Linked DNA regions of Homo sapiens. The protein of the gene in region 2 purifies or fractionates together with the protein of the main gene of each other region. This does not show direct contact. Each region holds a gene or a part of one and is shown on either strand. Other genes may lie near its edges. The genes, in order: CPSF3 and CSTF1.

Region 1 (7,294 bases), on a different chromosome or scaffold from region 2:
AATATGAAGTCCCGGGAGAGATCCTAGTAGAGATACCTAGTGTCACGTGTATGTATTAAAGGTCTAGAATTCAGAAGAACAATCTGGGTTACAAATACAGGCTTGGAAGTCCTTAGCATGTCAGAAAGATGAGAATGAAGATTGAGAAGTTGGCCAAGGAGCAAACCCTCGGAATATCAACATTTAAAGGGTAGGCAGAGGTGGCTGAATATGTGAAGGAAACAGGAAAGCCAGCAAGACAAGATGAGAGCATCAGGTCAGAGAAGCCAAGGGAGAGGTGCTTGAGGAAGGAGCAGGTACTCCTTAGGAGTGACAACGGCTGCCAAGAGAACAAGATAGGGACTGACACCTATAGTTCCAGCTACTTGGGAGGCTGAGGCGGGAGGATCACTTGAGCCCAGGAGTTGAAGGCCAGACTGGGCAACATAGGGGGACCTTGTCTCAAAAAAAAAAAAAAGACTGAAATGACTACTGAGCAGCAAGGACAGTTTCAGAAAAGTGATTGGTAAAAGCCAGAGTATAGCGAATTGAGGAGCGAGTAGAAGGTGAGGAAGTACAAGAGGGTCCACTGCCCTGGGAGGTGGTCTGGGGAAAGAATAAAGTGGGAACTAAAGGAGCTTAGAGTCAAGGGATTTTAATTTGGGGATGAACATGGCTGTAGTATGTTTAAATTTGGATTGGATGGTAAAGAGCAGACAGTGAGGAAAATGTCAATGACACAGCAGTGTTGAGTTCCTCAGAAGGAGGGAGGGAGTACGTAGAGTAGAATGGTGGAAAGTTTCATTGTGGAAAGAGAGGTCTATTCTATCTATAGAGGAGAAATAGAAGGAGACAGATGTGGGCAGGTTGGTACCCTGTTGGTACATGTATTCTTAATTATTGTACCAACATGAAGTTGAGGAAATTTACAAATGGACTGTTTATTTTTTTGATGCAGAAGATGGCCCATGCCTCAAGTGAAGAAGAGGATAGAAGGTTGGAAAATTTGGGAAAGGGAAGAAAGTTTGAAAATAGTTGATATGGAAATGAAATGGAGAAAACAGCCAGGCAACATTGAGGGCCAGTTAAAGTGGAAGGCCAGGGTATCCACAATAATTACAAATAAAAAATGTTTAAAAAGTGGAAGGCCAGGAATTTATGGCGGCTCTCATCCACAGTTGTTTGATCTTCTGTATCAACACCTGTTTGGAGGTAGGATCTCAGTTTGGGGATAGATCCATTGCATGTCCATCTGACTGAGTTCCTTGAGGTCAGGGTCCCTGTAAGGCATTTCCATGTCCTAGGCACTTAATCCAGTGCTTGGCAAATAGAAGCTGCTTAATGTTGAGTGAGTGAGTGGATTGTGAGCTAGAATGGTTGGGAAAAGGCATCAAAGAAGGTGAGGGATTTGAAAGATGAGGTTTAACTTAAAGTGTGCCTTGTGACCATTGCAAATTATGGCTGAAATTATTAAGAAGAAACAAAAATTATGTAAGTAGTTGGTATAAAATATGCTGAAATAACAGAAAGTAGAAGAAAAAGTGATTGAAATTCACAGTATGAATAAGTATTTTAAAAAAAAAAATTTTTTTTTTTTTTTTTTGAGGCAGAGTCTCGCTCTGTTGCCCAGGCTGGAGCGCAGTGGCGCGATCTCAGCTCACTGCAAGCTCCGCCTCCTGGGTTCACACCATTCTCCTGCCTCAGCCTCCCGAGTAGCTGGGACTACAGGTGTCCGCCACCACGCCTGGCTAATTTTTTGTATTTTTAGTAGAGACGGGGTTTCACCGTGTTAGCCAGGATGGGTCTCGATATCCTGATCTCGTGATCTGCCTGCCTCGGCCTCCCAAAGTGCTGGGATTACAGGCGTGAGCCACCGCACCCGGCCATTTAAATTTAAGCCATTTGGCAAATACACATTATGATCTTAAAGAAGATGACAGTGTTGAAATGCTTATGGCTTTCTACTTAAGTGCTAATTCTAGAAGTATTATTATATAATCTGCGTAACTGCTAGTTTACATTTTAAATACATTATAATTTAATCCTAAAATTCAGAAAATTGAATTTAAATCAAGCCCAAACCTTTGGGCTTCTTGGATCTGTACCGCCTTCTCTCTTAATTTTAAGAACTGCAAGATCCCTGGACTCCCAAGGATCAGTTTTCATCTGTTCTCATGTGGACACTGTTCTTCCCTGTCTTTGTGATTTTGTAGAACTCTCTTACGTCTCAGAATTTTTCAGTGAGGTGCTGTCATCAGATGGCATGTAGTGTACATTGTAAAAAAGTGTAAGTTTATTGGACTTGGTTTTGATTTTTTTTAATCCTTCTTTTTCTCCCCTTGAATATTTACAGTGGAGCTGGGCAAGAAGTAGGAAGATCATGTATTATTCTCGAGTTCAAAGGAAGAAAAATAATGGTAATTACTATTTTTGTACTCAGTTTAATAGTATGGCTCTGTCTGTATTGGGTGTTAGTCTTTTCTCATAGACTAGTTATCTTTTTAGCTCCCAGAAAAATGTTATAGTACATGTAATCTATGCTGTATAGTGTTAATGAGAAAAACTAATACACACTTCTACTTAGTAATTTAGTTGATTAAGAAGATATATTCTATGACTGTAAAATTGTCAGCTAGATCTGTTGAACTGTTACCTCTTCAAAGTCCCTCTTCCACTCCTGAAGGGTTGAGCCAGCCTAACTGCCCCACCCCCAGTGGAAGATCCCAAGGGCCCAAGCACTCTGAACACACTGAGAGCTCTAGCCGCCTCCAGCATGTGGGGATCAAGCCTTGGCCTAGAAGCTTGGATCCCCAGGTCCCACTGGGGCTGCCGGCCTTGGCCAAGTCACTTTGCTTCTCTAAGCCTGAAAGGTAGAGGGGTTAGAGGAGATAGTTTCTAAGGTACTCATTAGAAAGTCAGTTCTGTGTCTCAGATTCCTTTGATTCCTCTTTCTTCTCAACTCCTCCCAATCTGAAAAGAACATGTATAGGTCAGACATAGTCATCCTTTTAGTCATCTGTTTTGTTAATTTGGTAGTAACGCCATAAAAATAAGTAACTTTAATGACTGAGTCTTAAGAATTTGTTCCCTAATGCCTTAAAATATTTAAATTACCCTGATCAGGTAAGTTTCCCATTTCTAATTATTATCTTCTCACGAGAGTCGATCTGGTAGTAGTAAATCTATAAACTTTTAAAATTTTAATCTGATATCAAAGTTTTTGAAAAAGATTTAATTCGTTGTTAGAATGACGACCAAAAGTAGCTGGAAAGAAGCTGTTTTGTACTTTGCATCCTGTGACCCCTAAATGTGAGCTATATTTTAAATTTGTTGGGAAGTTAGAATTGTTAATGGCATATTTGCCACATTTAATAAGAATCATGTTCCAAGTGCTAGTGCCTGGAGTCCATCTTGAGTATATGGGTGATGGAACTAGAATTATTGCCTATTTGCCGAATGAATTTTAATAAAATGTGCAGGAGATTGTGATCTCTTTTCCTGTTTCTTTCAGCTCGACTGTGGGATCCACCCTGGCCTAGAAGGAATGGATGCTCTTCCTTATATTGATTTAATTGACCCAGCTGAGATTGATCTCCTATTAATTAGTCAGTAAGTTTTTCCCTTTATTAATGACACTTTTTCACGGACTTTTACTATCAAGATCATTCTTTACTAGATTTTGAGAGTTTGGTTTTTTAAAAGAGTGTTTTCTGCTAGGAAGCATATTGCAGACATCTGAGTCTAAACCAACACTCCGTAATGTCATCACAGGCTAGAGAAGTTTGCTATGAAAAACTTACCTACCTCTATGTATAAGTTCAGTGAGTATGTGAGAAGGAGATAGTACAGAACTTGAATCATTGTAAAACTTGAGACTAAGAAAGCCCTTTTCCAGGATATCTCCTTGAGGTCACTGTTTTATCACATTCTTCTATAAGAACGCCATTTCACCTTTATTGAAACTATTTTTAAATAGAGTTCATATAGAAAAATGTGACAAGACAGTGACCTCAGGGAGATATCCATGTTTCAACTTTATTCTGTTAAAATGTTTGCTGTAATTCTGGCTGCCAGGAGTAGGCTTGGGATATTCTTCTTCCTCCCTAATTCACTAATAAAGTTTTTTGCTGTTTAAAAACAATACTTTAAACATCTTTCCTCCATTTTAGAACTGTATGCATTACTTCTTCCTTCTACACATACCTACTCTTGGTTTTTCTGAAAGTATCAGCACATAGTTGTTTATATAAAACTTGTTTTGTACAGTAAGCAACAGTTTCATTACATGGTATCTGATGGATAATAATTTTAAGAATTAATGCAGCCTCTTTCTTTTTAAGTTTCCATTTGGATCACTGTGGAGCTCTGCCCTGGTTTCTACAGAAGACAAGTTTCAAAGGAAGAACATTTATGACTCATGCCACAAAAGCTATTTATAGATGGCTTCTTTCTGATTATGTCAAAGTTAGGTAAATTACTTTATTAGATTATACACGACTTTGGCTCTATATGGCATGTATGGTTCAAGATATGGACCATTTTGTGTTTTAAAATGAGGTGCTCCCTTTTCATGTATAAGGATATCAGTAATTTCATCATTCATTAACAAGGTCATTGAAACCTATTGTGTTTCTAGCACCTTCCTGACCTTGAAGGTTTTTTTGAGACAGGATCTTGCTCTGTCATCCAGGCTGGAGTGCAGTGGTGTGATCACAGCTCACTGCAGCCTCAGCCACCTGGGCTCAAGCAGTCCTTCCACCTCAGCCTCCTGAGCAGCTGAGACTACAGGTGTGTGCCACCACACCCAGCAGAGTTTTTTGTTTTTTGAAGAGATAGGGTCTTATGTTGCCCAGGCTAGTCTCAAACTCCTGGGCTCCAGTGATCCTCCTGCCTTGGCCTCCCAGAGTGCTGGGATTACAGGCATGAGCCACTGGCCTGGCCTTGAAGTCTTTATATAGCTTTTTGTGTCCTTTTAAAACTTCATTAGGCTGGATTGGAAGAGTTATGCTTAATTGTGGTAACACTCGTTAACACTTCAATAATGCTTACCACATACTAGGCCCAATCCTAAATTCCTAATGTATATTAACTTCACACAAAGATAAATAAATATACATATTTTTTTTTTCTTTTTTTTTTTCTTTTTTTTTTGAGACGGAGTCTTGTGCTGTTGACCAGGCTGGAGTGCAGTGGCGCTATCTTAGCTCACTGCAACCTCTGCTCCCGGGTTCAGGCAATTCTCATGTCTCAGCCTCCCCAGTAGCTAGGATTACAGGCACACAGTGCATACCACCACGCCTGGCTAATTTTTGTATTTTTAGTAGAGACGGGGTTTTACCATGTTGGCCAGCCTGGTCTTGAACTCCTGACCTCAGGTGATCTGTCTGTCTTGGCCTCCCAGAGTGCTGGGATTACAGGGTTGAGCCACCGCACCCAGCCGGGAGATAAATATATTTAATCTTCACACCAACTCATGATGTAGGTTCTATTATAAATTCCATTTTATAGATGATGAAACTGAGGCACAGCGAGGTTAGGTTATTTGCCTAAAATCGTCACAGTAAGAGACAGAGCAAGGATTTGAACCCAAACAATCTGGCTCCAGAGTCAGCGTCCTTAACCACTGTTCTCTCTTGCTTTTTTGTAAGTACATTAACATAATTTTCAGGAGAAAGGTTGTGCTAGACTTTGTAGAAAAATCTTTTCTCATCCTAATGTGAGAAATATCTGCCATGGTTCAATGTATGTGAGTGTGTTATATCTTTCAGGAGTGTTGGGGTGGGAAAAAAGTTTGAGAAGTACTATCCTAAAGAGTATTTTGTCTTAATTTATTGTATGTATTATTGAAAATTGAGAGTACTTTGAGCTCAGTGTCTTAATTTCCTGTGTGGTTTGTTTAAAATCAAGTTTTGTAGCTATACACACAATAGAGTAAAAAAAAAATACACAAAATATCTGAGAAATTTTAAATACATGATTCATACAGTATATTTTAAAGAAATATCTTCATGGAGATGTTATCCACAATTTCTTTGTGTTCAAAGGCTTTTTAAAAAATCTGACTCTTAATTGTTTTTGCTGGCATCTTTCAAAATTTAGTAACATATCAGCAGACGACATGCTGTATACCGAGACAGATTTGGAAGAAAGCATGGACAAAATTGAAACTATCAACTTTCATGAAGTTAAGGAAGTTGCGGGAATCAAGTTTTGGTGTTACCATGCAGGTCACGTCCTAGGAGCCGCCATGTTCATGATTGAGATCGCAGGCGTGAAGGTACCCTCTGGCTGTGGCGCTTTTCTCCCCAGAGAAATCAGTACAGAGCTTTGTGCCACCAAGTACTATTAAAAAAAAAAATTCCCTAAGACTTGCAAAGTGTCAGAACACGGAAACATAAGATAAAAATACAGTTAACGCTTGTTCCTTTTAAATATTGCAGTTCCTACCTCCATTACAATACTTTCTTTATCAAGACTGAGGAAAAAAAAATTTTTAAAGACTGAGAAAAGAGTAAAATAAACATCTCAAAAAGTGATTCCCTGACACCATAGGATTCCGTTTGCTTTAGAAAACTGGTTAGGGAAGAGGTGTCTTTGTGGCTGCATTCGTTTAAAATTAAAACACAATTTGATATTCATGTCCCCCTGATGTCTTAGAATTCACAGGTAAGCCCCTAAGCAGGGTGGACTGCAAGAGTGAAAGGGGTTAATTAGGAAAGATCTTTGGGGAAGCCTTGAACTTCTGACAACGTGGGTGGGCCGCTGGCTTTCCAGACTCCAGAGCAGCCGCTCTGAACTCAGGCTGCAAATAAGACTCACTTAGGGAGCTGCTGAAAATAACTGTTGAATCAAAATCTGGAGGCGCAGCTTGGCCTTTTCCTTTTCGAGTTTGCTAGGTGATTCTAACGTCAGCCAGAGAACCAATGCTCTAGTGTCACGTCCTAAATTTTTCACAGCTGCTTATACATTTGGAACTTTTAGACATTGAATTGTAAAGTATATCACTAAATCACTTATTCTTGCAGTTTGCTCCAGGGCACAAAAAATAAGTAGCACAAATGCAGATGTGAATTCTCTTGGAATTTGATGCAGACCCTCTTATGATTTTATCTCCGGTTTTAGACCATGTACCTCAGTGCACTCCTTTCCTTGTCTGCATGCCCTTTTTCTCTAAGAAGTTCAGAGCACTTCTCAAGTGGATTAATGTTATATAGGTTATCATTGTGAGATGATACTGGGAATAGATTATTCCCATTTACTAGAGGAAATAATTGAAGCACTGAACCGTTTACTGACTGAACTACACATTTTGAAT
Region 2 (4,512 bases):
AGTCTGTTTGTATCATCAGGCATGAAAACAAAGAGCTTTACAGGTTGAAGTGCATGCTGGAGATTTTTTTCATTAAGCCCTTTAATCGCAGAAAAGGAAGCTGTATCCCAGAAAAATGACTTGCCCTATTACTTACCAAGTCAGTAACAGAGCTGAGACTGGACTCTCTCACATTGCTCTTCCTAAGGAAAACCAAAGTGTAAGCAAAGATAGCGTTCTCTGAATAAGCCAAAAAACTGAATTATACTCAAGTTCTTTAACTTCACAGAGAGCGGCCGGGCACGGTGGCTCACGTCTGTAATCCCAGCACTTTGGGAGGCCAAGGTGGGCAGATCAGAAGGTCAGGAGTTCAAGACCAGCCTGGCCAACATGGCGAAACCCTGTCTCTCCTAAAGATAGAAAAAATTAGCCAGGCATGGTGGCACGCGCCTGTAATCTCAGCTACTCAGGGGGCTAAGGCAGGAGAATCGCTTGAACCTGGGAGGCGGAGGTTGCGGTGAACCGAGATCGCGCCATTGCACTCCAGCCTGGGCGGCAGGGTGAGAATTCGTTTCAAAAAAAGAAAAATTCATAGAGAGCAGAGGAGCAAAGATAAAGAGCTAAAGGTGATCCAGCTATAAAAACCTGACTTCTGGAACAAAGCACTAAAGAAAGGGTGAACAGTACCAAAGTCATAACTGCTGTTTGAGAACAGATGTTCAAATGTGGGAAATGTTCAAAGTAAGTTCCAAAAAAAATAAACTAGCTTATCATTGTATATAAAGTTTATTTCAGAAATCACGTATCTTAAAAAAAAAAAACACACAGAGGGTATAAGTTCGTATCCTGACCAGATATTCATTATTTGAATGGCAGAGTGTTGTGTGGTACAATTAACGAGATGCAGATACTAAGTCCATATAATATTCCTGGCATTTACACCAGGCTCACAACACTGTGACCTTTAAAAAGCAAAAAAACCAAAAACCAACCAACCAAACAAACACAAAAAAAACAAACCCACAAAAAATGAAAAAACAGCTACTTCTGAAACACATAAAAGTATCTTGATCTTTTAAAAACAGGTCCTGAAACTACAGATCCATTGCTGAGACTACTCGAAAAACTGTAAAACATGGGCATTATTTTAATTCGTGAACAACTGAAAAGATTCAATGGAGTGCCATGTGGTCATTTTAGTATGTGAGTCAAAGCAGAATAATAGGGAAACATTAAATCTCTCCTTTACAGTTTAAGAGGTTGAAAGCAAAAGGAAAGTCTGAAAAAAGAACAGGGGAGGTTTGGTTGGTAATGTTTTTGGTAGAACTGGTTATCCTTGTTCGTATTTAGTAGGTGCCTTTTAGTCTTACGAGAGTAGCACCCACAGATGGCCAAGTTCAAATATCAAAGAATCAGAATGCAAAGTACAACTGGAAATTCACACTGGAATTCAACTGGAAATATGCATCAAAAAATATGGCTCTTTGGAAATCTGAGCTAAAACCCTGTGATGTAACATGTTAAGATGCTTAAGACAGTTTTACAGATCAAGGAGTTAAAACGATCCTCAAGGATGACTAAAACAGAATGTTTACGCAATAACTTCAGTAACTTCGTATGATGGGGCCGCGCGTGGTGGCTCACGCCTGTAATCCTAGCACTTTGGGAGGCTGAGGCGGGCGGATTACCTGAGGTTGGGAGTTCGAGACCAGCCTGACCAACATGGAGAAACCCCGTCTCTACTAAAAAAAATACAAAATTAGCCGGGCATGGTGGCGCACGCCTGTAATCCTAGTTACTCGGGAGCCTGAGGCAGGAGAATCGTTTGAACCCAGGTGGCGGAGGCTGCGGTGAGCCGAGATCGCGCCATTGCACTAAAGCCTGGGGGACAAGAGCGAAACTCCGTCTCAAAAACAAAACAAACAAAACAAAACAAAACAAAACTTCCTATAATATAAAGCAATGACTTTTACTTCAATCTATTTACTATTTTTATCAAATGATCCCAGATTATATTTCTAGGTACTCCTATGCAGATCATAAGGTATTTGTTTTTTGGGATAAATATAAAGCAAAGTTTATGTTTGTACAAGGGGAGTTCAGAGTTCTCTGACTCTGCTAGTGCTGAATCCAGAGAAGTACTGTCATGTTCTAAAAAGCTTCAGGAAGGCTGGGCGCGGTGGCTCACGCCTGTAATCCCAAAACTTTGGGAGGCTGAGGCAGGCGGATCACGAGGTCAGGAGATAGAGACCATCCTGGCTAACATGGTGAAACCCTGGCTCTACTAAAAATACAAAAAAAAAAAAAAAAAAAAAAAAAATTAGCCGGGCGTGGTGGTGGGTGCCTGTAGTCCCAGCTACTTGGGAGGCTGAGGCAGGAAAATGGTGTGAAACCAGGAGGCGGAGCTTGCAGTGAGCTGAGATCACGCCACTGCACTCCAACCTGGGTGACAGAGCAAGACTGTGCCTCAATTAAAAAAAAAAAAATTCAAGAAAAAGAAAACTTGTATCAATTGGTTAACTGCATAAATCTTCTGAGAATGCAGTTACTATGTGCCTCCATGATGAGAAGTTAGTTCATGCTGACGAGAACTGAAGACTTAAAACCACCTAAGAAAGAGGTCAATCGATACTAATCATTCGTGAAGACAGGCAACACCTGAGAGCAATAGCAGGCTGACCTAATTTAATTAGATCGGATATATTTTCAATTGTTTCTCATGAAATCATAATCTTACCAGAAATACAGTTACTAAAGACAAGTATTGCAGATATTGAAGGATAATGTAGGGAGTATGTTGAAAGATACTGTTCCTATAAATTGTCAGGAAAAACTGGCCATTAATTTTACAGAAGTGAAAAATATATAACAATAAAGTTGCAGATCTGAGCTTTATTATCAGAATAACATCATTTCAGGATAGAATTGAGGGATTCTTGAAAATGCTTTTGATAATGGCATAAAACTCAGGAGTCTCAGAGCTGCATGCCTGCTTATCTGTTCAAATATACCTGGAAGGGAAATACACAGAGGGTTCAGCAGAATAAGCAAGAAAGTTGACAGAAGAACCAAATGAAAATTCCTCATGTCAAAAGCACTTTAATGCCCTATCCTCCTTCAATCAAGAGATCAAAAGAAACGGCAAGTCCTGTACTTACAAAACCGATGAAAATCACACTGTAATAATCAGTGAATGTAGAACTGCACAGATCTGTGTTTCCAACTTTTTCCACCATGATTCTACATCAAGGTAAAAAAAGATTCTTTTATACAAATCCAAGAAGAATGTGGACAGAGGTGGCAGCAAAACGTCAAGGATGGTGCACGGACTTACGACTGCAGCTGAGACAGGACGTGGGGGAGGAGGGTAGAGTCCTCGAGAAAGAACCCTACGGAGAGGGTGGCTCAGTCAGTGGTCGATCTCCGGTACCAAAACCGCGCTCTGAAGTCATCGCTGCACGTCATGAACCCGGGGTTGGTGGGGGAGTGCACTATGCAGCGTACAATATTGTTGTGCCCCAACGACAGCAGGTTTCTCCGCTCGGCTGTCCTCGAGTCCCAGCAGCAAAGACTGATCGTCCTCTCGTCGGGCAGCAACACATAGTCCTCGGTGTGGTTAAACACAGCCTGTGTCCGGTGCACCTGGCGTCCACTTAAACCCGCGCCTGCCACAGAGAGCAAGAGGGATAGCTTTCTAAGTCCACATCTTAGACCCTCAGAACGTTCTAGCATTCAATGTAAAAGCATTTTAAACCTGTTGCAGTGATACACCTTGTACACTTTCAGAAACTCTAAAAAAGTACAAAAAAGAAAATCAAACCAGGCACAGTGGCTCACGTCTGTAATCCCAGTACTTTGGGAGGCTGAGGAAGGAGGGCTGCTTGAGCCCAGGAGTTCAAGACCAGTCTGGGCAACAGGCAACAGAGCAAGAGCAAGACTGCATCAGGAAAAAAAAAAAGGAGATCACCAGATCACCTGAAGCAATACTGTTACTGTCCTAATGTACTTTGAGGCATAAAAAAACACATTTTAAAAATACATATAAAATTGTTGCCACTATATTTTTCTATTATAGTTTTAACCAACTTTATGCTGAGTACATTTTTCCATGTTTTTTACTAGATGCAAAGTGCCTCATGTTTAGAAGCCCCATTACTTATTTAACAATTCTTTTGTGTGTGATCTTTTTTTTTTTTTTTTAGACAGAGTCTCACTCTGTCGCCAGGCTGGAGTGCAGTGGCGTGATCTCGGCTCACTGCAACCTCCGCCTCCTGGGTTCGAGTGATTCTCCCGCCTCAGCCTCCCAAGTAGCTGGGACTACAGGTGGACACCACCACACCCAGCCAATTTTTGTATTTTTAGTAAAGACAGGGTTTCACCAGGTTGGCCAGGATGGTCTTTATCTCCTGACCTTGTGATCCACCTGCTTCGGCCTCCCAAAGTGCTGGGATTACAGGTGTGAGCCACCATGCCCGGCCTGTTTAACAATTCTTTTACTTCCTGACATTTAGTTTATATCAATTATAAGTAATG

Evidence for each region.
Region 1: the proteins of CSTF1 (region 2) and CPSF3 purify together in Homo sapiens (affinity purification with mass spectrometry; 2 studies listed by BioGRID and IntAct, with this or other methods). This does not show direct contact.

Annotation. Positions count from the first base shown.
Region 1 is NC_000002.12:9,426,433-9,433,726, forward strand, and holds part of CPSF3 (cleavage and polyadenylation specificity factor subunit 3), read left to right. Parts: intron 1-100; exon of another isoform or gene 101-128; coding exon of another isoform or gene 129-190; intron 191-2,332; coding exon 2,333-2,396; intron 2,397-3,490; coding exon 3,491-3,588; intron 3,589-4,319; coding exon 4,320-4,448; intron 4,449-6,078; coding exon 6,079-6,256; intron 6,257-7,294. UniProt on the Homo sapiens protein: Component of the cleavage and polyadenylation specificity factor (CPSF) complex that plays a key role in pre-mRNA 3'-end formation, recognizing the AAUAAA signal sequence and interacting with poly(A) polymerase and other factors to bring about cleavage and poly(A) addition.
Region 2 is NC_000020.11:56,402,600-56,407,111, reverse strand, and holds the end of CSTF1 (cleavage stimulation factor subunit 1), read right to left. Parts: intron 3,645-4,512; coding exon 3,385-3,644; 3' UTR 750-3,384; downstream 1-749. UniProt on the Homo sapiens protein: One of the multiple factors required for polyadenylation and 3'-end cleavage of mammalian pre-mRNAs. May be responsible for the interaction of CSTF with other factors to form a stable complex on the pre-mRNA.